Homo sapiens: one gene and its partners. The main gene of each other region encodes a partner of the protein of the gene in region 2 in a complex. Links are inferred from orthologs where the notes say so. Each region holds a gene or a part of one and is shown on either strand. Other genes may lie near its edges. The genes, in order: SNAP25, VAMP2, CPLX1 and NAPA.

Region 1 (7,112 bases), on a different chromosome or scaffold from region 2:
ATGAATAAGTTCATATAGATGAAAAAAACAAGGCCCAGTATGATTGATACATATCTAATTAATAGCTAATGAAAAAAATGGCAATCCTCCATATTAAAGCCAAGCTACATGTCATTTCTTAGAGAAATAAAGTTAAAGTCTCATCAAAATGATAGATTTTATTTAGCCAATACTTCATAGTGCTAGACATGACACTCAGTGCTTCATAATTTCCTTGTGTATTTGCTATAATTATTGTCTCCATTTTACCTATGAGATAATTGAGATACAAAGAGGTTACAGAACTAATATGATTCCTAAAAGATTTACTCAAGGAATACTGTGATCCCTAACAAATAGCCTTTTTGAAGTGTACTAATTTGGACTACCATTTTCTCTGCCTCTCTGTTCCTAATTGTCACAGGTTCTTCCTCCCTACTGGACCACAGGCGTGTCTCAGCATTGGGAAGGGTCCTAGGATGCATTGTAAAAGAAAGTCTGTAATTTTGGTGCATCAAGGAACAAAAGTGTGGAAACATCCAGCCTGTGGCTGCTGGACACTCCCCTTCTTCCTTCTCACCATACTGTCTGTAATAAAGAATAAAGTGTTATTTAATATTCTGAGTGTACAGTCCTATTTTTTCTTAACCTGGCAAACCAGAAACAGCAACTAATATTCCTGGTTCTCTTTTTACCTTTCACAAGATCTATATCTACCTTAGAGGCTTCAGGGAACAAGAACAGCCTGGATAGTTTAAACCTAGAGTTAAACTACTCGAGGCATTTTAAGGTACCGCTACTTCACTATATATAAATGGGGTGGGGGGCTGGATTAAGGGCTAGAAGAATATATGAAGAGAAAGTGGCAAGCAAACCACTTGGAAAGCAAACCAAGGAATCAAAACAGTTGCTCTATCAAACTGAATATTCTTGCGCAGAACTGAATATTCTTTGCCCTCACAGTGTTTTGAAACATTGTCATAGGGTGCCAGGCATGTCCCAAAGGAGGACCCTGGAGAGAGGGCTTCTGAGCTGGGCTATCTCTAAACTGCTTCCAAGTTGACTTTGGAAAGATCACATGGGATTTTAGAAAAGTTATTATTATTATGACTTATAAAATTGTAGTTATTGAGTCAACTATGAATCTTGCACCTTACCTTGGAGATACAAGCTAAATACCTTGGACCTAGAGCTACTGCAAACCAGAATACTTTGGGGCATAATGTACCAAAAAAGCTTTCAGAGGCTTGAATTATCACAGTGTAAATATCCATCTAGCAGAGCAGGTAATTTTCTCGTTACTCATCCTAAGCATTAGATACTCTGTGTGTTAGTTCTTTGCAGAAATAACCCATAGCAGCTGAACCATTTTGGAACAAATTTTCCATCACCTTCCTTCCCTGTGTGGTTCAGGCCTTTGCAAACCCTGAGTATCATGAATCTGCTGGTTCTCTACTGGCAAAGATGATGACGTTTTCTTGTTTGTTTTTGTTTTGCTTTAATCATGCCGTGAGAAAATCCTAAGGGAAAAAAATCTCATTATCCTATTCAAAATACATTTAGGGTTATCTGGTCATCCCTAGCAGATTTTTATGTACCCAATGTTTATGTATCTCAAATTACACTCTGTTACCTTTCCCAGAGCAAGATGAAGAACCTCTAAGAACCTCTCAAACAGCATCATTTTCACAACAAGCACTAGCAATGGAAAACATTGTCACCACCACCAGCTAATCTTGTAGGGTCCATGGTATTTTCTGTAATGCCTTGAAACAGTCTGCCTCTCTCTTCTTGTCTGTCATTTTTATAGATGTCAGTGTGGGGCATCAGCAGTTGAAAACTCAGAATACCAAGCCAGTCCTTCCCTGTGACTGCTACATAGCTTTTGCCTGCAGGATAAGCCTCCATCACTGACGTAGTTGCTTTTTAACTTCTTTTTTTTTTTTAACTTGGAAAATCCCCCACCTCCTCCATTCCTTCACAAAACTTTCTGCCTGAATGATTTCTAGTCTGAGGGCCATACACACATTTTTTTTTCTCCCTCTGCAGGTTTTTTTTTCTCTTCAAACTTCCGCATGCTGCCTTTTTTTAAAGTGTCACACTTTGGAAAAAATTCTGACTACAAAGGATTTTGCAGTACATTGCATTCAAACCCCTTTCCCCCTATTCCAACTTGCTTTATAATGAAAGTAAGAGCCATACTCAAGAGACTTTTATTGGCAATTAAGTATCTAAGGACTTTGCAGATTTTCTTCTTTATTGTATGGCAATCTTAAATGTTTAATGAATATTTAAGTAAACAAATTTCAGCAACATGCCTTTTTTAGGAATTTGGCTTTAATTAACATCCAAACACTGTTAATTATTATGGCAAAAACATCAATACGTCAAAAAAAAGCCTTCAGGCCAGGGAATCTTTAAGAAACAATTATGTCTACTAATTTCGATTAAAGGTATCCTTTATTAAATTCTTAACAACCCGTCTCTTTCTAAACGCAGCGCCTTCACAACTCTTCTTCCCTTCCCCCTACCCCGCTTCCCTCCCTCCGCAATGGAGCGCAATCAAAGGCCGTATTATTGCCTAAGCTTGGCTCTCAGGCCAGCTAGGGATGTGTGTGTGTGTGTGTGTGTGTGTGTGTGTGTGTGTGTGGTGGGGCGGGGGTGGGGGGCGAGGGTGCAAGGGGAGAGGTTGTACGCCGCTTTTCCGAACCCAGCTCTAAATGGTTTCTCCTAAGCGAGACAAGGATTTTCCATAGCCTAAAAGAGGCCATCAAGTTTTAACATTGCGAGGCACGACTTCTAATCGCATCCTTCCCGGAAAAGTACAAACAGTTCCTCAGACGAGGTCCCCCACCTCCCACGCGCTCCCCAGCCCTCCCTCCCTGCGGAGAGCCCCGCGACAGCCTCCCCAACACCTGTGAATCATCCGGGAGGCTGCCACCGCCGAGCGATCCGCGCACCACCCCCTTCCCGGGCCCGGGCACGGCCAGGGAGGACAGTTAGGGTTGTTGCTTTATAATTATCACTTTTAATCTCTAATACGACCAGCACAAGTAGCCTTTGTCTCCCCGCCCTGATTTGAGCATCCGAGGGCCCCCCGAGGCAGCCTGCACGGGTACCCCGGGGTTTGCGCACTGAGTGAACCCCCAGATTCGGCCGTGTCCCAGCCGTCCTTGCTCTGAATCCCCCACCTCCTCCCGGCCGTTTGGACGGTTCCCTCGGGGCGTCTGTGCCTCCGTGGGGTACCCCTAAGACACCCAGCATGAAACCCCAGCACCGACTGCAAATTCCACCGAAAGCAGAGTCATCCGTTTTTGCCCTCGGCAAACAACTCAACTTCAAGCCTCGAGTCCTTGCAAACCCACGCTGGCTGGGCTAACTCCGCTTCCCTTCTCCTTCCCCCGACTCCTGCAACAGCTCAGAGAGCCTGGCTCTGACGTAGTTCAAAATAACGTGCGCCAGCCTCGCTGCCCGGCTGACCACAGCAACGAGAGCCACAAGCCCTCGACGCTGCTTCGATAACATGAAGCAATCACTCATAAAAATAGCAACCCACGTAGCCTGGCCATATATGGAGCTGGCGAGGGTGGACGGGGATGCCCCTACGGACCCTCTTCGGAGAAAACAAATCGCCGCTGAAATTTCCCCCACCCCTCCCATCACTACCTTTTACCCCTCCTCTGCCTTCCCCTCTCCTTAGATGACTCAACCACAGATTCCACTGAAAGGGGGTGGGGGTGGGGGTGGGGGGGAATATATACACATACACACAAATTATACATATATTATACATGTATTATAAAATATACACACACATACATATATACATACACACACATATACACATATGTACACACACACGCACACACACCAAAGAACATCAGGAATGCAGTTGCGGGATGAACGCGTTTGCCCAAGACCGAGTGTTAAAATGGAGTCATAAGAGTCGCCCCGTGCGGGTGTTTATAGAAGGTGAAAACACGCAGGTTTGCAGGCCAGCGCACTGGGAACCGAGTCAAGCGCGCCGCAGCCCGGGCCCCGCCCCCGCCCCCGCCGTGCCCCGCCCCCACTTCCTCCCGCCCCTCGCTGGGCGGCTATTAAAAGCTGCTGACGTCAAAACGGACGGCCATCTTTGATGAGGGCAGAGCTCACGTTGCATTGAAGACGAAACCTCGGGGAGGTCAGGCGCTGTCTTTCCTTCCCTCCCTGCTCGGCGGCTCCACCACAGTTGCAACCTGCAGAGGCCCGGAGAACACAACCCTCCCGAGAAGCCCAGGTAAGAACCCCCCTCCCCAGGTCGTGGCTCTGGCTCGGGATGGCTGCATACCCAGAAGGGACAGCAGCTGGGCAGTCCGAGTGGGCTTGGGTAAATACAAGTATTGGTGCACTTAGGGTGCGGTATTCCGTGTGTGCACGTCTGGTGGGGGCTTTATAAAGTGTTTTCGAGGTGAGCTGCTGGGGAAAAGGGAAACGGGAGCCCTGCAAATGGAGCGACGGGGAGGAAGAGCGAGGGTACGTACCGAATAATAACTTACTCTTTTGAAACAGTAGTGGGACCCCCTCTTTCTTCCATTTTGCGATGCAGTTTTCAGAGATATTTAGGCTGTTGAGTTTTCCTCCCCTGTCGTTCTAACCCTATTATTATGACTGTTGTCGTTAGGGTGCTATTATCCAGGGAAGAATTAAGGGGGAGACAGGGTGTGGGTGCTGGGGAGGCGAAAGGAGAAAGGGGGAGTTCCCGCCCCGGGCAAGCTGAGCTGCTGCAGCGACAGCAGCCTCCATGCCCCGCGGACTTGATTTATGCCGCCTGCTCCACGTCAACTGCAGGCTGGCGGGAGGCGGGCGGGTCGTGCCGGGTGGGAGGGCTCTGCGGAGGGCTGGCGCGGGTGGGCTGGCTTCGGGGACTGCGGCGGCCCGCGCTCAGCACCCTGGATAGCAACACCGAGGGCTCGCGCGGGCGCCCTCGACCTTTCAGCACCGGGGACAGCGGTCCGGCCGCAGCGCCTCATCTGCCTGCGGCAGAAATGCCTGGCCGGGGCTGGATGTGCCAGGGCTGGAGACCAAATTGTCTCCCTGAGACCCCGGTCTTACGGAGACCCTTAATAGAGGAGTCATAGTAGCTTAAAAGAAAACAAGAAAGAAATAAATCTTCCTCACAGAGACTCCTTTGCAGACAATTTCCTGTTCCCCTCCTCACCTCCTGCATAGCTTCAACAAAATAGTCTACTTGTGGAAATCTTCTGTGTTGCCCTCTGACCCTTATTTTACGTAGAAAATAAATACATTTTTTAAAAAATATGGATTTATCCTCCAGCAGGGTATCAAGGTTTTTGTTTGGTTTTGTTTTTTAACACAGAGTAGATCTGTCTACAGATCTTGGGTGAGCATAAGTACTGTATATATGAAGAAGCCAATGCTATCTGTTTATAGGGATGATACATCTCTCTCTATGTTTCCATTTGATAAAAATGTGAGATTAGCTGAACTAAGCAGAATCAACTTTAAGAATGAATCACTCTTCCTTTTCCTTCTTCCCCCATCCTTGCAATCAGGCATGAATACAAGCATTCATCCACAAAAACACATATCTGAGAAATTTTACTGGTCCTGTACTGAATAGATTTAACCTCTTTGGCCACGGTTTCAGAGTTACTGGAAGTATTTGCTATCAGCACTGGTTATCGCAGGCTGATAGCTTTAGATTTTGACAATATTAAGACTGGCCTTCCTCAGGAGAATCCAAGTGTGTCCTTCAGGGTAATGCAGGTAAAGAACCATGGTGTTAAACTAGAACTTAACTCTGACCTAAAGGTCTACTGCAATTTCTCTTATGGCACTGCGGGATTTTGCTGAGGTGGTAATAACTACTTTAACCATTTTCTACTCTGAGGCTTGGAGCATCTGAGAGAGCAAAAGTCATCAGGGGTATTTCTCTCTGTTTGATGTAGATAAAACTGGCATAAAAATGACCAGAGTCAAAATTATGCCATTTGAGTCATTAGCAAAAAAGAGTAACAGCGTCATATGTAATAATCTATACAATGCATTAAAGAAACGCTATCATGATCCCCTTAAAAGACCCCAAATGAGAACTTGGATTGTGTTTAGATAGTCATACCTCCTATCATCTGTATGCTACAGACACTAAAATTCCCTGTCCATATACAGAAGGTAATTTCATTCGCTGCTATTTAATTATTTCCTAGTGTTTTTTCTTTTTATAGATGACCATGTGTTTCCATGTATGTATATGTTGATCTGTTATTTTGCATGGATGTAAAATTATTTGGGTGGACATTTATATATGAGTATGTAAACGTATAAAAGAAGTTTATAACTTTGCAATCTGCAGACAAAAATAAACAACTGTGTTTTAGTAGTGGAGGAGAGAAAATATGGGCAGGAATCTTTAAAAATGCTTTAACTTCATGCTGCATGTCCAGACAGCTGTCTGCGTAGTTGCGTCAAATGAAAAGCCTAATGCTGCCGGAATTACGTGCTTGGACATTAGTAATTACTGCTGGGTTTGTTTGCTAGTGGAAGACTGGGGAGGAGCGGGGGAAGTAGAGGACCGCAGTGAAGATGGCAAAGGGCACAGAGCTGAGAGGAAGAAGCAATGTGCACAATTAGAAAGCTAATTTTAGAATAGCTTACTGAGAAATTTAAAAAATATATCATTGAACCATGAATTTAACATTTATATCATTGACAAGCTTCCAGGGAAAAAAAATCGAGAAATTTCCCATTTTAAGTTAGAATTTTTAAAATCCAGGGCAATGCGGTGAGAAGAGGCAGGAGCAGATGGACATAGGATGAGCCAGGAGTCATTCACACAGACCCTCTGATGCCTGTTTGTTCATCGGCATTTACTGCATTACCACCTCAGTGTTCAAATTACAGAACAATTTACAATCCTCTTAACCTCTTCATGGCAAAATCTCCCAAGAATTCACAATTTTATTTTTACTTTGTTAAACACGCACAACCACACATGCACAAACACAATGCAAACTACCCGTTAATTAGCTTGTCTAAAGATATTCCCAAGCTCTAAATGTTAACCCTTGAGTGAGGGTTATCAGCTGAAAGACATGTTTCTGCCAGTGACACCTAGAAGCTGCGTAAGCAGTCAG
Region 2 (7,773 bases):
TTCTGATACCAGCACAATGCCTGGCATTGTAGAATGAGAGAGCCCTCACTTAACAAATGAGAAAAATGAGGCCCCAGGAGAAAGGCATTTGCTCCAGGACACCATGCAGAGTGGGAAAGCTGGGACTAGAACCCAAGTCTCCTGGCTGTTAGGCCAAATCAGTTGACTCAATTAAACAAATGTTTATTGAACACCTGCTACCTGCCAGGCTCTGGGCTTGGCATGTAATATGGAAGGTAATAAGATGTCAACCAGGTGCCGTGGCTCATGCCTGTAATCCCAGCACTTTGGGAGGCCGAGGCAGGTGGATCACCTGAGGTCAGGAGTCCGAGACCAGCCTGCCCAACATGGTGAAACCCTGTCTCTACTAAAAATACAAAAATCAGCTGGGCTTAATGGCAGGCGCCTGTAATCCCAGCTACTCAGGAGGCTGAGGCAGGAGAATTGTTTGAACCCAGGAGGCAGAAGATGGCACCACTGCACTCCAGCCTGGGGGACAGTGAGACTCCGTCTCAAAAATAATTAAATAAATAAATAAAAAGGAAGATGTGGGTTCTTGACAACCTCTCTATCTAGAGGAGAATTCCTCCCCCTTTCAAAACAACAGGAGCTTGTTAAACCCAGTGAATCTCTAATGAATGGAGGGTTGGAGAGTGAGGGACCGGAACCAGGAGTCCTTTCACGCACCCAATCCCAGGAGATTCTGATCTGCCTATGTCTTCTCCCACCCATACAGGGCTCTGGCATGTGGCACCCCCACCACCCACACTGCCCTGCTTCCCAGTGGCCAGGGGCCTGGGCCTGCTCTGCTGGCTGGTTCCCTGGTCGAACCAGTAAAAAGTGATCAGTGCTTCGCCAGCCCAACTAGGACTGTCCTTACAGAATACTGGGCACAAAGGTCCTGCCCAAACACATCCTTCCCGTTAGCAGTCTGTCTGCCTGCTATGCACTCACCATAGTTTATTATTCATTTGCCTGCCTCGTTCCTGGCACTGTGCTTGGTACTTGTTCAGAGAGAACTTCACATATTAAAAAGATACCACTTTATGTGTTTACATTATGCTTTAATACAAAAAGAGACACCTTCTTGACCGGGTGCATTGGCTCACGCCTGTAATCCCAACACTTCAGGAGGCCAAGGTCGGCAGATCACCTGAAGTCAGGAGTTTGAGACCAGCCTGGCCAACATGGCGTAACCCTGTCTCTACTAAAAACAGAAAAATTAGCAGAGGTTGTAGTGAGCCAAGCTTGTGCCACTGCACTCCAGCTTGGGTGACAGAGGGAGACTGCCTCAAAAAAAATAATTAAAAAGGCCGGGCACAGTGGCTCACACCTGTAATCCCAGAACTTCGGGAGGCCAAAGTGGGCAGATCACCTGAAGTCAGGAGTTTGAGACCAGCCTGGCCAACATGGCGCAACCCTGTCTTTACTAAAAATAGAAAAATTAGCCAGGCATGGTGGCGGACGCCTGTAATCCCAGGGACTCGGGAGCCTGAGGCAGGAGAATCTCTTGAACCCAGGAGGCAGAGGTTGCAGTGAGCCGAGATCACGCCACTGCACTGCAGCCCCGGCCGACTTCTAAACCAGTAATTGTCTGAAGAGAAAAAAAAATTACGAAATAAGGCCGGGCATGGTGGCTCACGCCTGTAATCCCAGCACTTTGGGAGGCCACGGTGGGTGGGTCACCTGAGGTCAGGAGTTCGAGACCAGCCTGGCCAACATGGTGAAATCCCGTCTCTACTAAAAGTACAAAACGATTAGCCGGGCGTGGTGGTGCACTCCTGTAATCCCAGCCACTTGGGAGTCTGAGGCAGGAGAATCACTTGAACCCGGGAGGTGGAGGTTGCAGTGAGCCGAGATCGCACCATTGCACTCCAGCCTGGGCAAGAAGAGCGAAACTCCATCTTAAATATAAATAAATAAATAATAATAAAAATAAAAAATAAAAGAAAGCGTTTATGAAAGTGTGGTCTCGGCCAGGCGCGGTGGCTCAAGCCTGTAATCTCAGCACTTCGGAAGGCCAAGGCGGGCGGATCACGGGGTCAGGAGATCAAGACCACCCTGGCTAACACGGTGAAACCCTGTCTCTACTAAAAATACAAAAAATTAGCCGGGCCGGGTGGTGGGCGCCTGTAGTCCCAGCTACTCGGGAGGCTGAGGGAGGAGAATGGCGTGAACCTGGGAGGCGGAGTTTGCAGTGAGCAGAGATCGCGCCATTGCACTCCAGCCTGGGTGACAGACAGAGACTCTGTCTCAAAAAAGAAAAAAAAAGAAAAAAAAAAGAAAAAGAAAGTGTGGTCTCTGTTGCCTACATCACCATCACCTTGAGTCCTACATCCTTTGAATGAGTCTTGGGGGTGTGCCCTAGAAAATCATTGGCCAATTCCCGAAGCCAGTACATGTAGAAGCCAAATCTGAGTTATGCAAATACATTATTTTTCTATTGTTCAACTTACCTCTATTTGGGTCTCCATTCTACCTGCCTGCAGAAAACATTCTCTCAGTCACTTCCAGGTGAACTCCGTCATCCCACTCCTTCTCCCACCTCCACCATTGATCTAAATTTGGGGAGTTCCTCTGAGCCACAGCCTAGGTGGGGTGGGGTGGGAAGGGGCTGCTGGATGAGAGTCCTCTTTCTGAGATGAATCCTCCTGGGCCCTTCATCTCCGTGGGTCACACATGCCCTCATTTCTACTCTGCTGCTGCCGTCCCCACGATCCAATAGCAATAGCACGACCCCTGGCCTTGACCGTGTATCTGGGGCTCTGTCCCTTCCACATCACCCCCAAACCAGCATCAAATGTCTTGTCTGGCTCTGCACTAGGCTCCCCTCAGTTAGTGCAGGGTGTCCAACTGGGGGCGGAAGGGCTTCCTGTGCCTGCCTCTTCCAATCCTCCATGTCTTATTTATACCCTGACAGACACTGAGGGTTTTGAACTTAAAAGGCTGGAATTTGGCATCTTTGTTCTCTGACTAGAAAGAGGAATCATTTGAAGACCAAAAAGCAGGAGCCAGCATCTCACAGCATGATCTGAGACCCCCGTGGAAGCTGCTCTTTTCTTTCTCATCACATAGGCTGAGCCACCCGGGACTGTCAGTGCACAAGGACCAGGGACGCGGCTGCTCCTCTGAGGGGGAGGAAGCCAAGAGTATCTTCTCTTAGATTGGGCTGAGTTCCCACACCCAGCACACACATTCCCTGCTCACTCACCTCCCACAGACAGCTGGGAAATGACACCTCTGGTGACAGAGCCACTCTCCGGGCTTCTGTGGGGAGCGGGTGGGGCACTGCAGTGGGGGAGGATCTCACACCCGGAGGCCCTGGGAAGCCAGGGTGGGGGAGGGAGGAAGCTGGTTCCTGTTTGTCTTAGAGATCAAGGCCATCAGCCTCCCTGCACCTTCCAGGGATGTAGTAAGCACCCCCACCCCAGGGCCAAAGGGCCTCGCCTAAAATGCCTCCTGCACCCTTGAGGCTTGCTTTGACCCCCTGCACTCCACCAGAGCGACAGCTCCCCTGGTCCCATCTTCTCTGACAAGCTGGGTGGGAGTGTATACAGCTGCTGGGTGTGCTTAGAGGGCCTAATGGAGACCAGCCAGGGATAATCTCCTATGTTATCCACATCAAGCCATTTAACAAATATGGATTTAGTACCTACATATGCAATGTATTTGGGGTCCAGAGAGAGGAGGGCAACGGTCCAAGGTCACACCTGCGAGGCGAATACGCATGTAAAGCAGCACCTTGTAACCTGTGCCCACTGTGCCTACTACTAAAGAAAAAAAAATGAGAGAAAAAGAAAAAAGGCTTTTTTTTTTTTTTTGGCCCAGGCCCTGTGCCTGGGACCAAAGCCTGAGCCCTTTCCTGCAGTCGGGTCGCTGACCTAAGCCTGGGGCAAAGCTAGGTCTTGGCCAGTCAGCAGCCACCACGTGAAGCAGCCCCTGCCCCCATCACCCCCGGCAGCCTTGTGCCCTCCTCCTCGGGGTCCTCAGCTCACCCCACCTCAGTCGGGCCTGCTCCAGCGGTTAAGTACCCCTAGTCTGAACCTTAATCGTGAGGCGGGGCAGCCCCCTCCCCACACCCTGTAGACACTCCCCCGTCCTCCGCCCCCTGGACTTGTTTGGGCGGGAAGAGCCTGCCTCATCTTTTCTTCCTACCCTCCTACCCAGTGGCCAGGGACCCCAGGCTTCCTCTGAGACATCCACCAGCGGTGATGGGTTGGGACCAATCTCCCCCACTCCTCTCCACCCTAGCAGTAAGGTCCCCGCTCTCGATACTGCCCCAGCACCTGCACTGGCCCTCTCTGATTTCCCAACTCCAGCCCATTCCAAGTGCTGAAGGCGGGTCGCTAGGTGCTGGGACCTGGGCGCGGGGCAAGACCTTGGGCTGTGTGGGGTGCAGGCTGGTTTACTGGGTTCACGATTGAGGGAGTGGTCTGGGGGTTAGGTGTAGGGCCAGGCTGCGTTGTGCTCTAAGGGGCAGGCGGCAGGCGGTTTGGGGGGGCTGTGGTCAGACAGGGTGGGGTGGCGGTGGGTTTGGGGAAGCCGCAGCAGCCCGCCTTGGGGTCCCGCGAGTGCCGAGGGAGCTGCCGGGGCATGGTGGCGCGGGGCCCGTGGTCCTGCCCGGCACGACCCCCGCCCCGCAGCGCCCCGCAGCGCCCCGCCCCCGCGGCCCCGCTCGCGACGCGTCTCCCGCGGCGCCCCGCCCCCGCCCGCAGTGCCCGGATGCGGGTGACGCGCGGCCGCCATCTTTCCGTCCCGGGCAGCCAGCGCCAGTCGGAGCCAGCGCGAGCCGCCGCCGCCATCACTGCCGCTGCCAAGTCCTCCACCCGCTGCCCCCGCCATGTGAGTCGGCCGCCCGCCACCCTCACCGCGCTTCCCTGCGCCGGCCGCCGCCCTTGGCAACCGGCCGTCGGGAGTGCCCGGGGTCTCTCCTGCGTTCCCCGCGCCCCGGGGCCAGGCCCAAGCCGGTGACTGCGCGCGGGCGGCCGAGGAGCCCCGCGTCCCGGGCTGGCCGGCTCGGGCGATGGCCGCGGGAAGGAGCGGACCCAGTGTCCTCCTGCCCCTCCCCGCCCCTGTCACCGCGGCCGCCTGTCTTTTCGGGTCGACCCGGATCGCATCTGTGAGGTCGCCCTCAGTTGACAGGCGGGGAAACTGAGGCCGGGGGGGCCTCGCTCAAGGTCACGCAGCTCATCGGCGGCAGGGCTGGACCGAGACCAGGGCTTACATCGGGTGGCCTTCCTCCCGAAAAGGAGGACTGGAGGGACGAGGATGGACAGGTGGATGGGCGGAGCCCTGGCTGCGGGGCCGGGAGGCTGCAGGCCCTGGGTCTTAATCCGTCCCTGCTCCTCAGGTCTGCTACCGCTGCCACGGCCCCCCCTGCTGCCCCGGCTGGGGAGGGTGGTCCCCCTGCACCCCCTCCAAACCTCACCAGTAACAGGAGACTGCAGCAGACCCAGGCCCAGGTGGATGAGGTGAGTGTGGGGGGAGTCAAAAGCAGTAGGAGGGACCCTGGGGGTTGGCGTATAGGTGTAGGGGCCCATGTTGGTTTGGGAGTGATGACAGTTCACGCCTGTGGGTTTGCGGACAAAGATACCATGCCCCATCCCTGTCTCCCTGTCAGCACGCACTTGGAAGGGCGCTGGGGGTGTTAATCAGCTTTGCTAGCCTGGGGTGTGCCAGCCTGGGCAGGTGTGCTCTGGTGATGGACAGAGCGCCTGAGGTTCCATAGAGGGAGGGTGTTGCTATGACATCTGAGATGTCACCAGCATGCCCCTGATGTGTGCTCCTTGCATGTCCCCAGGTGTGCTAGGCATGTTCTGTGTGTCCTTGGCATGTTAACCTGGCAGTATCAGGGTGCATGTTCCATGTGTGGCACGGTGGGCACATGTTTGAGGATTGCCCTCACTGAGGTGGGCCTTGGCACACCCCCCTGCCTCGTGGGCCCTTCTCCCAGGTGGTGGACATCATGAGGGTGAACGTGGACAAGGTCCTGGAGCGAGACCAGAAGCTGTCGGAGCTGGACGACCGTGCAGATGCACTCCAGGCGGGGGCCTCCCAGTTTGAAACAAGCGCAGCCAAGCTCAAGCGCAAATACTGGTGGAAAAACCTCAAGGTAAGGGTGGGGACAGGAAGGAGGACAGGTGGGTGAATGGGGTATCATAGTTTGTCTTACTGATCCTCGCCTCTCACCCCCAGATGATGATCATCTTGGGAGTGATTTGCGCCATCATCCTCATCATCATCATAGGTGAGTAGGGTGAGAATGGCCGGGGCCCTTTCCCTGGAGAGGTTTCCCCAGTGGATTCTAGGTTTTGAAGGTCATTAATCTAGTTTTTACTCTTCAGCCAAAAACACATATAGCTGCTAATGGCAATTCTGATTCATCTAGAGCCAAAAACTTTGATGTTATTTAGCCTGCATTTTGCCTAGTTCTTGGCAGTCTTGTTAACATTTGGAAATAGGAAAGCTGGTGTATCCATTGAGGACCCTTTAGGCCTAAGAGCCCAGTCTGAGAACCCTGGAATTGAGGAGTGGGAGAAAGGAAAGGACCAGGGGCTTGAGACATGACCAGGAAGCCAACCACCCCATTATTTGAGAGCTTGCGGTCTCAGAGGCTCAGAGGATTAGGGTCTGTGGCTTCAAGGCCATACCATGGAGCGGAAGGGACCTCAGAACCTACCTGTCTAGCCCCTTGCTTTGTAGATGGAAAAACTGAGTCCAAGAGAGGGTGTCAGCCAGCTGGGGAGTGGGGAGGATTGGAGCAGGGCCAGGCCTGACACACTGCTTTCTTGTTCTCTCTCTTTCTCTCCCCTCTCCCTCTTCCTCATCTTCTTCCCCTCTCTCCACAGTTTACTTCAGCACTTAAATCCCCGAGGAGTCTGCCCTGCCTAGAGAAGGGCCTCTCCCCCAACCCTCAGCCGTTCCTCCACCTCTCAGCCATATCTTTCAGCCCCCACTCCCCTGGATCCGTGTGTGTGTGTGTCCGTGTGTGTGTCCCCCTGTAAATAGCCAGCTGTTATTTATACATATATAATATTATATATATTTGGTCTGTTTGTAGTTTTATTACTAGATGATTTTTCCGGTTGTCCTTAACACCCCTTCCTGAGGTTCCCTTCACCCCTCTCTCTTGCCTTCCTTCCCTTTCCCTTTCTTCCTGACTAGCCCCAAGTCCCTTCATTTGCATCTGCTATGCAATAGTCCCTCTCCTTTCCTTCTTCTTCCCTCAGATTTAGCTGATCCTTCCTCCCACCCTGGCCTTCCTTTCCTCTTTCCTCCTCACTCTCCCCGTCATGCTCCCTCTGCCCCGCCCTCAAAAAAAAAAAAAAAAAAAAAAAAACAACAGCACCTGTCCAGGCTTCCTTAGGTACATCTTCTTTGTATCCATTGGGAGGCTCTGAGACTGGCCCCACTTGGTCCTAAGAATCCCAAGGTCTTTGGGAGCGTCCAGCATGTTAATTAGCGTATCATTACATACTGCTATCCCTTTCCATTTCTTTTTGTTCCATCACTCTTCTCTCAACCTGTGTTTCTTTTTTTACTGAGGAGTTAGTCCCCATTAGTTCTTGTATCACATTTTCATTTGCACGACATTACTCGCAGGTGGTGGGGAGCCTGGGCTTTTGGGGAACCAGGCTGCTCTGGTCCCCAGCATTGCCTCCTCCTAGCCCCTCTAGTCCAGTTTGCCTCCCTTACCCTCATTTTCCAAACCTCTTGTACCCTCCTCTCCCTCCCCCAGCTGGTATGTAAGTGTCTTGAAGTTCAGTATGTTAT
Region 3 (7,241 bases), on a different chromosome or scaffold from region 2:
CCAAGCCCACTCCCCACGGGCGGCTCTTTTGTTGCCCTGGGTCCCTGGTGGATCAGGGTCCCCGGCTGAAGGAGGCCAGATCCACACCCCACACTCAGCGCAGGGCTGGAGCCGGTGGCTCCCCCTGAAGCTGGAGGGCCCTGGCCTGGCGGGTGGGCTGCCCGGGACCTGGCCTTGCCCAGCTCAGAGGCTCCCTCCAGCCAGGGGTGAGTGCCGCTGACCCGGCTACCTGGTGCTGCTGACTGCATGGTTGGGACCATGCTGGGCCGCAAGAGATCAGCTCAGAGCGGGCCCCATGTGTGCCCTGGGGCACCATGAGATCTGGGCACCGTGTGACCGGGCAGCCGTGGATCCCAGGACCCCAGGGCAGGGCCTGGGGCACAAGCATTCGCTCAGCTGCGGCAGTACCTCTGCTCTGCTCCCAGGGGCCCACTAGGCTGACCTCCCAGGCGCTGGCTTCCCCCGGCTAGATGCTGGACCTCTCTCACCCAGTGGAGGAGGGGAACGGGTTCAGGGCGCTTCCCAGGCGAGGACACCCTCCACTCAGCCCAGGTCCTGCCCCAGCTCTGGCAAACGGCAAGGGTCTACATCTTGCTTTGCTCACGCTTTTCACGTGTTGTTACTTTTGGAATATCAAAATCCAGCAGGAAAATGACAGCGTGGATGGTGTCGGCACTCAGACTGAATCACTCAGCACATGTAACTATTAAGTTTGTGTTTGAAGGTTCTGGGTGGGTGCTGTGGGCCGGATCCACACATGCGGTGTGGCAGAGCGCTGCCCTCCTGCTGGGCCCATGGGGGACATGGCCCCCTGGCCACACCCCACGCCAGGACTGAAGGCCAACCCCAGGAAACCCTGACAGTGCTTCCCAGACCCTTTCCTGGCCCAAGGCAAGGAGGATGCCTGGCACCCAGGAGGGCTATGGGCAGATGGGACCCAGAAGATGGGAGCAGGGTGGCAGTGGAGGCCTTGGCAGGGGCTTCCAGAGAGGCTAGAGCTGGAGGTTGCAGCAGGGCAGCTGCCTCCTTTCCCTGCTGTCTGGAGTGACCCCGCAGGGTCTCAAACCCAGTGCCACATGGTCCTCACACAGTCCTGCTTTGTGCTCCTGGGGTCCCTGGCCTCACTGGGGCTGGGGATGGAGCATCTGAGGAGCAGAGGGCTGGCTGGGCCGGGGGTACCATCCATGTCCAACCGGCTGGCACAGGCCCCACAGCCAGGGCTCGGCCCAGCCAAGCACTCACACTTCTCCAAGCTGACCTCTGGGGGAGCCCTCGTTGGAGCTCCATCCTGCTCCTCCCGGACTTGCTCCACACCCCACCTCCTCCTTCTCCCAACATCCGCCTGGACGGGGTGGCCTCCAACTCTTCCCCGGCCTGCAAAATGTTTTCCCTGCCTGGATCTTCAACCTGGCCTTCAACCTGCTGGCCCCTTTCTCACTCAGCTCCTGCCCCTTTCCAGCCGGCTGGAGGTCTGCGGGGCTTCTTCTCCAGGGCTCAGGGCCTCCTCTGGGCACTCGAAGGGCCAACCGCACCTGCCCTGGTGTGGCCAAGTGGCCCGTGGGGGTTGGCAGAGGCCTTTTGCCGCGTCACCACCTTCTGCCACTGGAACGGAGCCTGGGTGGCTCCTGGCCAGCAGCCTGTGACTCCCATCCCAGCTGGGCAGCCCTGGCCTGGCTCACACACCCTGAGTGGGCACCACCCTGAAGCCCTCCAGCAGATGCCCACTTTCCCTTCCCCTGGCCCAGCTCACACACCCTGAGTGGGCACCACCCTCAACTCCTCCAGCAGATGCCCACTTTCCCTTCCCTAGGCCACTTGTCACTCTGACCTGGGGCTGTCACCAACCTTGTCTATTTCCCCCAAGTTGTGGCTGGGCCCCCCCACCCCCAGGTTAGGGCCTAGACAAGTGTGAGAGCTGAGAAGCAGTCACTGCATGTGTGGCTGGATGTAACAAGTAACAACAGGGACAGGCAGAGACAGAGAGAGACGGACACAGAGAGACAGAGACAGACACAGAGACAGAGAGATACAGCGACAGAGAAAGAAAAGACAGAAAGACAGAGACAGAGATAGAAAGAGACAGAGAGACAAAAAGACACAGAGACAGATACAGTGACAGAGAAAGACAGAGACAGAAAGATAGAGACAGAGAGACGGGCAGAAAGACACAGTGACAGAGAGATACAGCGACGGAGAAAGAGACAGAGAGAGAGGCAGAGGAAGACAGGGCAGAACGTGAGGGCTGGCAGAGGGTCTCTGTCCTCTGTGCCCCAGGCCCCAGCTCCAGGTGTGCTTGGAGCTCAGGCTGGCCTGGGTTGTAGAACGGGGAGGGGTCAGCCTAGGAGTCCAGTGCTTCTGCTCGGAAGAACGGGCACCTCCCTGCACTCCTGTGCAGACTGTCCCAAAGGCACCAGCATATCCCTTGCATGCAGCTTGTGGAGGTGGCAGGGTCAGTCATGAGCCTGGCTCTGGGCTCAGGGGGTCACCCCTGGGGTCCTCTCTGGGGTTACTGTCCGGGTTAGCTGTTGGGTTATCCACCCAGTTAGGGATGGAGAGAGAAAGCACCAGGGCCGAGAAGTGACCTCTTTCTTGGACCCGAACATCTCACCCTTGCTGTCCCCTCCCAGGTCCTGAGGAGACTAGAGGAGCAGATGGAGCAGAGCAGGCTGGGGCTCAGGCCGGGCCCCCAGGCATGTGTCCTGCCTCCTGTCCCTGGGCCCAACGTTCTGAGCCCACTTGGCTCAGATCCCGGGAGAGAGGAAGGGACGGTGCTGGGGGTGCCCATGGCTTCCAGCCAGGGAGGCTGAAGAGACCCCAATCCTAGGGCATGGGTCCCCCTCTGGGAGGTTGCCTGTGAACCCCCAGGCCCACGGGACCCTCATGGCTGTCTCAGGGAGCCCCCATGGGCTTGGCCCTGGTGCCTTCACCCTTCCCTCTCCCCCAGCGCTCCCTTCCTCTGCGAAGGGTCCCCTGCCAAGTCAGCAGAAGAGTGGGGACGGGGGCAGAGGCGCTGGGGCCAAGGCTGGGAGTCCAGGCCTCTGAGTCCTCCTGAGCTCAGGCTAAACACGGGGCACCGGAGGGGATGGGGCTGAGGGCGGGGGAGGGGCCGCATCTTCCCTGCGCCAGGGGAGTCCCCAGGACTCAGCAGGGAGGGGACAGTGACAAGTTAGTGCGGCGGCCACCGGCAGCGGCCCCCCTCCCCCCTCCCCACCCCCACCCCGCCAGGAGCACAGGGCAGCTCTAGGGTCGCGGTGCGCCCCATCCCTCCCGCCGCCTGGCTCCCGACACTGCACAGCGCGAACCGCAGGGCCGACCTTGCGGCGACCCCGCTCTCCCGCAGTGCCGCGTCCGCTGCAGAGGAAATCCCGGGGGCCAGGGGAGGGAGCGGTGGGGTCTCTGGCCTTCGTCCCGGTAAAGGAAACAGCGACTCCGTTACACCGAAAGTGAGCCCGGGCCGGCCTGCGGGTCTCTGGCTGCGAGGGGCTTGCGTGGGTTTTCAGGGGTCTGGGGGCCCCCTTCTCCCGCCCTGCGATACGGGGAGGTCGGGGCAGAGGGGTCGGGGCGGCGGGCGGCGCTCAGGGACACGGTCACCGGAGAATGGGGGCGGCAGCGACTCCCAACCCCTGGCCCCTCCGCTCGGGAGGCAGCGACTTCTCCGCCCGAGGGTTTTGCACCCACCGGCCCCGCGCGGACCCTGTAGGGAGCAGGCCCGCACCGTCGGGCTGGGGGCGGGGGGGCAGAGCCGGGGGCGCCCAGATCAGGGGCGGGCGGGGGTCGCAGGCGCCCGCCGGGGGAAGGTCGAGCCCGGGCCGGGTTGGAGGGAGGCGGGGGCGCGTCACTCGGGTCCACCCCCGCCCCCGCCCCCGGGTCCACCCCCGCCCCCGCCCCGGGTCCACCCCCCGCCCCCGCCCCCGCCCCCCGCCCCCGCCCCCGGGTCCACCCCCGCCCCCGCCCCGGGTCCACCCCCCGCCCCCGCCCCGGGTCCGCCCCCCGCCCCCGCCCCCCGCCCCCGCCCCCGGGTCCACCCCCCGCCCCCGCCCCGGGTCCACCCCCCGCCCCCCGCCCCCGGGTCCGCCTCCGCCCCCGCCCCCGGGTCCACCCCCGCCCCCGCCCGGCGCCCGCGGCCCCGCCCCTCGGCGCTCCCCTCCCCGTGCTCGTCACGCTCGGACGCGGGCGGGGGGCGGGGAGCGCCTGCGAGTGACGCGCCCTCCTCGCGGTGCCCTTCAGCCGCCGCCGCAGCTCACCGGGCGCCACATGGACCCAGCCGGCCCGAGCGCGCCCCGCCGCTGACCGCCCGCGCCCCGGGAAGGTAACCGCGCCCCGAGCGCAGCGCGCGCCCGGCCTCCGCTCCCCGGGTCTCCCCTCCCGGCCCCGGCGTCTCCTCCCCGGCCCCCGCTTCTCCCCGCTTCTCCCGCCGGCCCCGGTTTCTCCTTCCCGGCCCCCCTTCTCCCCGCGGCCCCGGCTTCGCCCAGCTCCTCCCCCCGGCCTCCGCTCCCCGGGTCTCTCCTCCCCGGCTCCGGCTTCTCCCCCCGGCTCCGGCCTCTCCCTCCGGCCCCCGTTTCTCCCCCCGACCCCGGCTTCTCCCCGCAGCCCCCGTTTCTCTCCCGGGCTCCGCGCGCGCGGGGTCCGGGGCGGGCGCTGTCCACTGCCGCGGTGCTGAAGCGGCCCCCGCGGTCCCGGCCCGCGCCCGGCCTCCTCCTCGCTTCTTCCTGTCTCGAGGCTCCCCCTCTCCTCCCTCGCCCTCTTTCTTTCCTCTCCTGGCGCGCTCCCGCCTGAGGGCCGCTCGCCCGCCCGCAAAGCCGAGGGGTGCGGGTGCGGCGGGGCCGGAGCCCTGCGGGTCTGCGGGGCCCGGCCGTGCCCTCCTTCCCCGCGCCGCGGGAGCCAGGGGAGAAGTTTGGAGGAGAATCGGCGCTGCGGCAAAGCCTCCGAGGGGCGCTCCCCGCCCGCCGCCCTCCCAGTCCCCGCGCGAGTCTCCTTCCTCTGCGGAGGGCGAGGGGTGAACCGTCAAACAGTGTCTCTCCAGGGACCTGGGGTTCCCCGATAGGAGAGACCCCGCAAAACCGGGGGGCTCACTGCGGCTGCTGTGATTTCAGAAAGCGGCTTCCCAAGAGGGGACCAGAGCGCCCCACCCCACCCCATGCACGCCCCCGGGGCGGGGGTGCTCTGTCCCCGTCCCCACGTGTTTCCTGAAGGCTGAGCCCCCTGAAGTTTCTCCCCAACCCCGATCTCTTCTACGCGGGCCATGTGGGGGGCACACTGACTGCAGTGCCGTCAGGGATAGGGTCACCCAAGCCTCCCTGGTCAGAAGCCACAGGAGCCCGCCCTGAAGGGTACCCGCTCAAAGACCCACCCCCAACCCTTCTCCACGGCCCTGGGCTCGGGACCACCGCGGAGGCGCCGCTCCAGACACTGAGCTGCAGAGCGGAGCAGTCACCTTCAAACGCCCCCTGGGCCCCGCCCCTGCTTCCGCAGCCTGGCGCCAGGCGCCTCTGAGCGATGCCCCCTAAGCCATCAGCAGCCCTCCCTGCAGAGGCTTCAGACACCCCAGGAGCTGGGGAGACCATTTTCAGGTCCTCTGGGGTCCTGGTTTGGGTGTGGGGACAGAAGCCCCTCACGAAGGACTTCCCAGGCAGCCGCTCCAGGTGGGGGAGGGTCCAGCCCACAAGGTATTGCGGGTAAGGAATGATGGTCTCTGGGGAAGGCCAGGCAGGGGCCTGCTTAGGGTGACCTGTGACCACTTCACTCTCCCCCAGGAAGAACACTCGCTCCCGGCCATACTTGCGTGTGAGTTCTGACCCCTGGAGGAGCCACTGTGGAAGCAGAGCAATCGCCATGGAGTTTGTGATGAAGCAGGCTCTAGGAGGTAGGAAGCGGGAGGTGGGGTGGGGAGGGGCTGAGGGGACATGGAGAGACCACCACAGCAGCTGCTCCTCATCTGGCCCACCGCAGCAGCGCCCCTGCAGCCACACGGCCACCCACGCAGCCCTGCACAGGAGCCTGGGGCAGAGGAGCAAGGACCGTGCCCAGCAGCGCCCCCAGCCCGGCCCTTTTCGAGGCCCCGAGCCAGAACTGGTGTTCCTGGCGGGACAGGGGCTGCCCTGTAAGCTCACTCTGCCCCACTGCTGTGGTCGGGGCAGAGCCCATGGACCATGCTGATGCACGTCCTGGGGGAGGGTGCACACTCTGGCGTAGGCTTTACAGGGCCAATTCTAACTGGCCAGGCTGGGCAGCCCCCAAGGGGGCTTCCTTCCAGATGAGGAGAGCCAAGCGGTGGGAGAGCAGGATGCAGGTGGCAGCCTCAGGGACAGGCGTGGGGACAGAGCTGGCCTGTGCATCTGGCGAGGACCCTGTGGGTTTCACTTGGGTGAGGCAGCGCCATCCTCAGGGACCAGGGCTTGCTGGTTACGGGAGCGAAGGAAAAGGCCCGAAACAGCTTGTGTGTCTCGACTGCCTCCCAGGCGGGACGTGCAGCCTTTTTTGTGTGTACTGGGGTGGGGCCAGGCCCCCTTCCAACCTGCTGTCTGCTATTTGAAAGGAACCTCGTCCCCACTTGACCCAAGGCTGTCATTGTGGCCAGAGACCATGTCAAGAGCAGTGGCTGGGTTCCTAGACCAGGAGGTGGGCAGGGCCTGGGCCATGCTGGTACAGACGTGTCCCGGCAGAGCTGATGGGTCAACTCAGGCCTCGGGGCTGTCGTGGCGAGTCTCAGTTTTGCCCAGAGCCGTCCATCCTGTGTTCCCCCAGCACCAGTGCCCAGAACTCCTGTGAGGGGAACCTGTGGCCGGTGCCCGATTCTACCACTAGAGACGTCTTGCTTGGGTGGCCTCCACGGGGGAGCACCCTCACCTGATGCCATTCACACCTTGGAGTGAGTCAGGCCTCCTGGGAGCATTTCTGCAGTGGGGGAGCTGGCCGGGTTCGAGGGGCCAGGGACAAGGGTGTACAGAGGGCAGGCGCCGCTTCCCCCAGGGCAGGAGCTGCCTGCCTGGCTGTCTCCCGGAGGGTGGCTGTGCTTCCACTCAACACAAATTAAATGAAAAGATATTGAGCCTGTCCTGGGGCCACATCCCTGAGATTTCGTGGTCAAGGGTAAGAGTCAGGTTGAGTCTAATTATAATGGCTGCGTCACCGGGCTGTGATTCAGGGACAAGCCTGCATCTGCGCTGGGAGGGACGCACGTTCCACCCAGGGAGTCCCAGGCTGTTACGGATAATTAATTAGTTGGCTAATTCAGGCCCTGA
Region 4 (6,852 bases), on a different chromosome or scaffold from region 2:
ACGTGGAACTCCCTGTGTTCCATCTTCCTAAGGCATGCTCCATAATAATCCTTGCCTGGAGTGCTGCTCCCTGCCAGAGAGCACCCCAGAACTCATGTTCATCCCCCCAGGGTTGGGGCCTCTCCCCCAGGAAGCCATTTCTGATCCCTCTGGATCTCAGTTCCCTGTCTTTCCAGGCAGAACCTCCCGTCACGGTAGATCTCTGTTGCACCATCCCTGCTGCCTAGAGCACCCTCCCCGGCCCCACTCCCCAGCAAGTCCTGGGATTCCTTGGGGCCCAGCTCACTCCTCACCAAGAGCCTCCCCCTGGTTCACGCTGCTTCCTCTGAGCTCAGACAGTCACAGGAATGACATCATCGAGCCCCTCCTTACAGTAGGTAATTCCACTTTATTGGTGTTTGCTGTTCATCCTGCCTTCCCAATCAGGTAGCAAATGCCTTGGGGCTGACTTAGCTGCTCCCTCCAAGCACACAGTCCAACAGCCCACTAATCCCTGGGCCAAAGGGACCAGACACCCAGAGCCACCCAGGAAAACTATCACCAAAAACCCAGCTCGTGGCCCCACCCCCAAACACAGCACTTGAACTTCTCCCCTTGTGAAGAAAAAGAAACACACACACACCCTCTCTCTCCTCGCAGCCTCTAAAATAAAACATTTTTCACCTAATCAATCCAGTCCATCAGCCCCGGATGTTTCTCCACACCAGGCAATTCGCCATCATGTTCTTCAAGTTATTTTGCTAAACATTATCCAACCTCAAACAAGGGGCGTGGCCTAGAGCCCTTTTCCTGTTCCTTCCTCTCTTGTAAAGATCCCTCTCCTTCGTGTCTTACCAGCCTCTGCCAGGCTCCTACCACAGTCTCTTCCCATCCCCAGGCCCTCCTCCCAAACCCCCTTCTCCAGCCTTCTGCAGATGTTCCCAGTCCCACCACCGTCCCCAGGCTCTGCTTCTGAGTGGCCACCACACACTGTTCTCTCTACAAGCCCACTAGTCCTTTCCCAGGTCTCCTCTCAGTTTCCACAACCTCCCCTTGACCCTTTCGGGTCGTCCCATCAGCACAGATCCCACCACCTCCCACACCACCGCCCCCTGCCAAACTCCCTTCTCCTTCCTCTGCCCAGAGCCTCATGCTCCTCTCAACCCTACTAAGTCTTCGTGGATCCCTTTTCTGTTCCCTTTCAGCTCCTCTTAGCACACTCATGTTTCTCAGTCTCTCCCTCTCCTGACCCCTCCCAGACCTCTCCGCTCGGGCGTCCACCTTGAACCCCCATCAGCTCTCTGCACGCTCCGAACCTGTTTCCTTCTGGAAGTCACATTAACAACAGCTAACACTCTCAGAGATGTAACTCCACGCCAGGCTCAATTCTAACACTCATAGCAAATGGGAGGTAGGTTTGATTTGTGATCTCCTTTAGCAGGGAGACTAAACAATTTACCCAAAGTCATGAAGTAAGTGGCAGAGCTACTTGGGCTCTTGGCACTTCTAAGCCACTACAATTTATCACAGGATGGTCGTGTCAGCTTTTAGGAGCTAACGTGAGTTTTATGCCACGTCATATGTGTTAGTTCTGTCTCCCAGGCCTTTTCCCATCCCTCTTCTCAGCATGTCTCTGTCATCCCTATTACTCGAGGATCACACAGCAGGAATTTGATCCCCCGTTTTGGTTCTCTCAGTCCCCCTGTCTCTCCCTGTTATCCCTCCATCTCCTTGGCCAAGCCACCACCACGCATTCCCCCACCCAGGAGTCTCCAGCCTCAACCCAGGCCTCCTCAGGCTTTTTTCTTTCTTTCTTTCTTTTTTTTTTTTTTTTTTTTTGAGACAGAGTCTCGCTCTGTCCCCCAGGCTGTAGTGCAGTGGCTCGATCTCGGCTCACTGCAACCTCTACCTCCGGGTTCAAGTGATTCTCCTGCCCCAGCCTCCCGAGTAGCTGGGATTACAGGTACCCGCCACCAGGCCCAGATAACTTTTGTATTTTTAGTAGAGACGGGGTTTCACCATGTTGTCCAGGCTGGTCTCGAACTCCCCGCCTCAGATAATCTGCCCACCTCGGCCTCCCAAAGTGCTGAGACCTCCACAGTCTTGACTCCATCATCCCGGGTTCCTCCGTTCAGCTGTCCTTAAACTAGTCACTGCTAACCAGGGCCGTACTCACCCCATGCACCCCCCACACTTCAGACGCGGCTCACCGCTCCTAGGATCATCTAGCCCTGAGCCCCTCTGCCTGGTGTCAGCCCCCTTCAGCCTTCACCCTCACCGCCCAGGGCCCACGCAAATCCACTGCTCCAGGGGTTGAAAAGGTCAGTCCCTCGGGCAGGCGTCCTCAGCCCCAGGCCCCATCACTGCCGCCTGAGAGCCTTCAAACAGACTCCCCTAGAGCTCCGAAAAGCCTCTGGACCTGGCTTCTCTCCCGGACTCCCTCCGTCCCCCCAGGCCGGTCCCCTCCAAGGCTTCAGGACGTACTCCCTCGGTCCAGGTTCTCCCCCGCCCGCTGGCCTGTCTTCGGCCTGGGTCCCCTTCCTCGCCTCAAGATAGTGTCGCCTCGGTCCGTGTGTCCTCAGCCCAAATCCCTTCCGCCATGTCAGACCGTCTCTCCTCAAACCGTGTTGCCCCGGCCCAGGCTCTTGGCCCTCAGCCTGCGTCCCCTCTGCCGCCTCAGGCCATGTCACCTTATTGCAGGTTCCTCTCCGTCCCCTCGGCCCGAGCTCTGCGTGCCCTAACCCGCCACCTCCGAGCGTGACTCCTTCGTCCTCTCAGCCTAGGTCCCGGCCGACCCCTCAGCCCGGTTCTCACCCAAAGAGGCCAGAGAAGAAGGACTGCGAGTTCTTCACTTTGCGCTCCGCCTCGGCCAACAGCGCCATCGCCTCCGCTTCCTTCCCGGAATTGTCCATGGCGGCCACAAAGGGACTCAGCAAAGCGCCTGACCCTGACCCTGGGAAGACTCAGCCGCGGCCGGGCCGCGGAACACAGATCGGTAAAACTCGCCCGGCTGCGTTGACGTCGCACCGGCGCGCGTCGCTTGCGGCCAGGAACCACGTGACTAGCGCTGGCCAACCAGCGGCCTCGTAACGCCGCGCCCGCTCCGCCGGACACGCCCCCACCAGCCGCCGCACGCCGCCCGTGACTCGTGACCCCCCAATCGGCGTCAAGAGACCTCAACGCATGCGCACATACCGGCGAACGGCGCTCCACTCTCTCCCCAGCGCTCTGTACCTCACCTCCCACGTGACCCTGTGGAAGGCAATGGCAGTACCCCCCGCCGAGGCCCCGCCCCACGGTGTTGCTGCTGGATCCTCCTCCACCAATCAGCAGGAGCCCTCGGCTCGCGCTGGGGCGGGGGGTCCCCCACTCGCCCTCCCCGCGGAACTCTGGCACAGTCAGCTGACCGCAGACACTCACGTGACAGCTCGGGGCCCACGCCCGGGTTTGACAGTTCTGCGCAGAACTTAGTCCCGCCCCCGCGGCTGGTCTCGCCGGTTTCTTCACTTGGAAAGGCGTTTGTGGGAAAAGGAAACCGTTCTGCTTTTTCTTGCTCCCTCTGTCGGCCAGTACTAGAACTGCTTTGGGGAGACCGGTGAAGAGAGACTGCAAACAAAAACTTAAGAGGTTCTCTAACTCTGGTTTCATAAAAAATAGCTGAAGAGGGCCGGGCACGGTGGCTTACGCCTGTAATCCCAGCACTTTGGGAGGCCGAGGCGGGCGGATCACTTGAGGTCATGAGTTTGAGACCAGCCCGGCCAACATGGCGAAACCCCGCTCTACTAAAATACAAATATTAACCGGGTGTGGTGGCACACTCCTGTAATCCCAGCTACTGAGGAGGCTGAGAGAGGAGAATCGCTTGAACCGGGGAGGTGGAGGTTGCAACGGGCCGAGATCGTGCCACTGCACTCCAGCCTGGGCGACAGAGTGAGACTTAGTCTCAGAAAAAAAAAAAAAATAGCTGAAGAGAGCGTGTTAAAAAAAAATTCAGATTCGAAGATGGGCGCGGTGTCTCGTGCCTATAATCCCAGCTACTCGGGAGGCGAGAGGATCGCTTGGGCCCAGGAGTTTGAGTCTAGTTCAAGTCCCGCCTTGGGCAACATAGCAAGACTCTGTCTCTAAAAAAAAAAGTTTAGGCTCAAACACACCTCCTGCTGTCCCAGAAAATTGAGTTGCTGGTTTCTGAGACAGGGTCTCACTCTTTGGGTTGTTGGTTTTGGAGACAGGGTCTCGGTCTGTCGCCCAGGCTGGAGTGCAGCAGCACAATCATAGCTCACCTCAGTATAACTTTGTAGTGCCAGAAAGGAAGGAAGTATTCCACACGTGTGCTCACACACAAAATTAGGGGGTATGCCAAAGGAGCCAACTGAAAGAACTCCCAATGGCCAAAGCTGGAACAATTTGAGCATCAAAATAAAGTAGTATTGGATTATAATCCCAAACATAAAGTATCCATGAGCCTATGGTCATATAGATGAATATAGAACAAATAAATAAAGGGGGGAGAATAGACAAATAGTTTGTGCAGAAGAATTCCAAATAATCTGCGTAGATACTCTGCTCTCAAGAAGGTGAAGGATACCTCCCCATTCTGTAAGTATGGACTGTGCATAGTGACTTCCTTTCAAAGAAGAGGGTACAAGAAAGGGGAGAAAAAGCCTAAATTTACAGTGGAGAAACCTGACATTGACATCTAGGTGATTGAGGTTAACCTCAACATTGATAAGTCATGTGATTAAAATGGCTCTTTACTTCTGGGATCTTTCAATCTAATCATGAAAAAAACACTAGACAAATTCCAGTTGAGCCACATCCTCCAAAATACTTGCCCAGTACTCCTCAACACTGTTGGTGGGTGCAGTGTGTCACATCTGTAGTCCTGGTACTTTGGGAGGCCAAGGCAGGAGGATCACTTGAGGCCAGGAGTTTGAGACCAGCCTGTCCAACATGGGGAAACCCCGTCGCTACTGAAAATACAAAAAACTTAGCCCGGTGAGGTGGTGCATGCCTGTAATCACAGCTACTTGGGAGGCTGAGGCAGGAGGATCACTTGTACCCTGGAGGTGGAGGTTGCAGTGAGCGGAGATTGCCTCACTGCACTCCAGCCTGGGGGACAAGAGGGAGACTCCGTCTCAAACAAATAACACTGTCAAGTCATCAAAACAAGGAAAGCCTGAGAAACCATCACAGCCAAGGAGACGTGACTGCTAAATGTAATGTCTTACCTTCGGTGGGATCCTGGAACAGAAGGGCATTGAGTTAAAAAACCAAGGAAATTGGCCGGGTGCGGTGGCTCATACCTGTAATCCCACCACTTTGAGAGGCTGAGGCGGGTGGATCACCTGAGGTCAGGAGTTCCAGACCAGCCTGGCTAACATGGAGAAACACTGTCTCTACTAAAAATACAAACATTAGCTGGGCCTGGTGGAGGGCGCCTATAGTCCCAGCTACTCAGGAAGCTGAAGCAGAATTGCTTGAACCCAGGAGGTGGAGGTTGTGGTGAGCCGAGATTGTGCCACTGTGCTACAGCCTGGGTGACAGAGTGAGACTCCATCTCAAAACAAACAAAAACACTAAGGAAATCTAAATAAACTATGAAGTTTAGTTAATAATATTGTGCCATACTGGTTCATACGTGGTAATAAATGTACCATTCTAATATAAGATGTTAATCATAGGGGAAACTGGGGTATGTGGGAATTTTTTTTTGCTGTCATTGCAGTTTTTCTACAAATCTAAAACTATCCTAAAAATCTTCTTTAAATAAAACAGTTTCCAAGGCCGTACCCACAATGGTTCCAATTCTGAGTCTGTGGTGGGTCACAGGAATCTGCATTTTTAAAAAACAGAACCCTATATAATTAGGATGCAGCCAGACCTGGTGGTTCATGCCTGTAATCCCAACACTCTGGGAGACCAAGGCGGGAGGACCGCTTGAGCCTAGGAGTTAAGGACCAACCTAGGCAAAAAGCAAGATCCTATCTCCACAAAATTAAAAAAATTTTAATTACTCCTTGGGAGGCTGAGGTGGGAGGATTGTTTGACCCCAGGAGTTTGAGGCTGCAGTGAGCTATGACTGTGCCACTGCACTCCAACCGGGACAACAGAGTGAGACCCTGTCTCATCTCAAAAAAAAAAAAAAGTAAAATTAGGATGCAGATAATCCCGGGACCACAGTTTGAGAAACCGCTATTATCTAGGGGGTTGGCTGAGCCGAGCAAGGCATAAGAAGCCTTCCCCCAACTCTCTTCATACATGAATAGACTTGCCTGGACCACCTACTTGTGGTTGCCACTGTGTCCTGACCACAGAGCAGGTGGGGGTGAGCCTGGATTACCACAAGCGGTTTTGGTTCCATGTCTGTCAAAGCAACACTATGTAAAAGCTTCTGTTTAAGCTGTTCCATTTCAGGGTAATTTGTCATGCAGCAACAGATAATATAACCCCTCAGCCTTTTCAACCAGGGAATTTTTTTCCATTTCCAGAGTTCATTGGATTTATTTAGGATGGGATCCAAACAATATTAGCAATCACATGAGAGCTTGTTAACTAGTAGCCATTCAGTTCTTATGGTGCACCCTCCCAAGTGCTTAATTTACATTTTATTTCTATTTATTTATTTATTTTGACATGGAGTCTTGCTCTGTTGCCCAGGCTGGAGTGCAGTGGCACGATCTCTGCTCACTGCAACCTCTGCCTCTGGATTCAAGCAATTCTTGTGCCTTAGCCACCCAAGTAGCTGGGATTACAGTCATGTACCACCACACCTGGCTAATTTTGTATTTTATATTTTTAGTAGAGATGGGGTTTCACCATGTTGGCCAGGCTGGTCTCGAGCTCCTGACCTCAAGTGATCCGCCCACCTTGGAC

Evidence for each region.
Region 1: the proteins of VAMP2 (region 2) and SNAP25 are in contact, whole or in part, in a crystal structure (PDB 1SFC), measured with the Rattus norvegicus proteins. The link is inferred for Homo sapiens from one-to-one orthologs. Residues at the interface, in NP_036795.1 of Rattus norvegicus: Asn25, Thr27, Ser28, Asn29, Arg30, Arg31, Leu32, Thr35, Gln38, Val39, Glu41, Val42, Ile45, Met46, Asn49, Lys52, Val53, Glu55, Arg56, Lys59, Leu60, Glu62, Leu63, Arg66, Ala69, Leu70, Gly73, Ala74, Gln76, Phe77; in NP_112253.1 of Rattus norvegicus: Gly131, Gly132, Phe133, Ile134, Arg135, Arg136, Asn139, Leu150, Glu151, Ser154, Ile157, Gly158, Leu160, Arg161, Ala164, Leu165, Met167, Gly168, Ile171, Asp172, Gln174, Asn175, Ile178, Asp179, Ile181, Met182, Ala185, Asp186, Asn188, Lys189.
Region 3: the proteins of VAMP2 (region 2) and CPLX1 are in contact, whole or in part, in a crystal structure (PDB 1KIL), measured with the Rattus norvegicus proteins. The link is inferred for Homo sapiens from one-to-one orthologs. Residues at the interface, in NP_036795.1 of Rattus norvegicus: Arg47, Val50, Asp51, Leu54, Asp57, Gln58, Ser61, Asp64, Asp65, Asp68, Ala69, Gln76; in NP_074055.1 of Rattus norvegicus: Leu41, Arg48, Tyr52, Glu56, Arg59, Glu60, Met62, Arg63, Ile66, Arg67, Tyr70, Gly71, Ile72.
Region 4: the proteins of VAMP2 (region 2) and NAPA are in contact, whole or in part, in a cryo-EM structure (PDB 3J97), measured with the Rattus norvegicus proteins. The link is inferred for Homo sapiens from one-to-one orthologs. Residues at the interface, in NP_036795.1 of Rattus norvegicus: Gln36, Ala37, Asp40, Glu41, Val43, Arg47, Val50, Asp51, Leu54, Glu55, Gln58, Lys59, Arg66; in NP_542152.1 of Rattus norvegicus: Arg116, Thr118, Lys122, Ser157, Ser159, Ser160, Lys163, Leu197, Tyr200, Ser201, Lys203, Arg239, Ser268, Ile269, Arg271.

What each region holds. Positions count from the first base shown.
Region 1 is NC_000020.11:10,214,723-10,221,834, forward strand, and holds the start of SNAP25 (synaptosomal-associated protein 25), read left to right. Parts: upstream 1-4,107; 5' UTR 4,108-4,255; exon of another isoform or gene 4,256-4,491; intron 4,492-4,514; exon of another isoform or gene 4,515-4,784; intron 4,785-7,112.
Region 2 is NC_000017.11:8,159,947-8,167,719, reverse strand, and holds the start of VAMP2 (vesicle-associated membrane protein 2), read left to right. Parts: upstream 1-4,771; 5' UTR 4,772-4,840; coding exon 4,841-4,842; intron 4,843-4,843; exon of another isoform or gene 4,844-5,268; coding exon of another isoform or gene 5,269-5,276; intron 5,277-5,350; coding exon 5,351-5,471; intron 5,472-5,953; coding exon 5,954-6,112; intron 6,113-6,195; coding exon 6,196-6,247; intron 6,248-6,848; coding exon 6,849-6,865; 3' UTR 6,866-7,773. UniProt on the Homo sapiens protein: Involved in the targeting and/or fusion of transport vesicles to their target membrane. Major SNARE protein of synaptic vesicles which mediates fusion of synaptic vesicles to release neurotransmitters.
Region 3 is NC_000004.12:823,114-830,354, reverse strand, and holds the start of CPLX1 (complexin-1), read left to right. Parts: upstream 1-4,225; 5' UTR 4,226-4,309; intron 4,310-5,753; 5' UTR 5,754-5,832; coding exon 5,833-5,863; intron 5,864-7,241. UniProt on the Homo sapiens protein: Positively regulates a late step in exocytosis of various cytoplasmic vesicles, such as synaptic vesicles and other secretory vesicles.
Region 4 is NC_000019.10:47,512,050-47,518,901, forward strand, and holds the start of NAPA (alpha-soluble NSF attachment protein), read right to left. Parts: upstream 3,015-6,852; 5' UTR 2,892-3,014; coding exon 2,794-2,891; intron 735-2,793; exon of another isoform or gene 664-734; intron 1-663. UniProt on the Homo sapiens protein: Required for vesicular transport between the endoplasmic reticulum and the Golgi apparatus. Together with GNA12 promotes CDH5 localization to plasma membrane.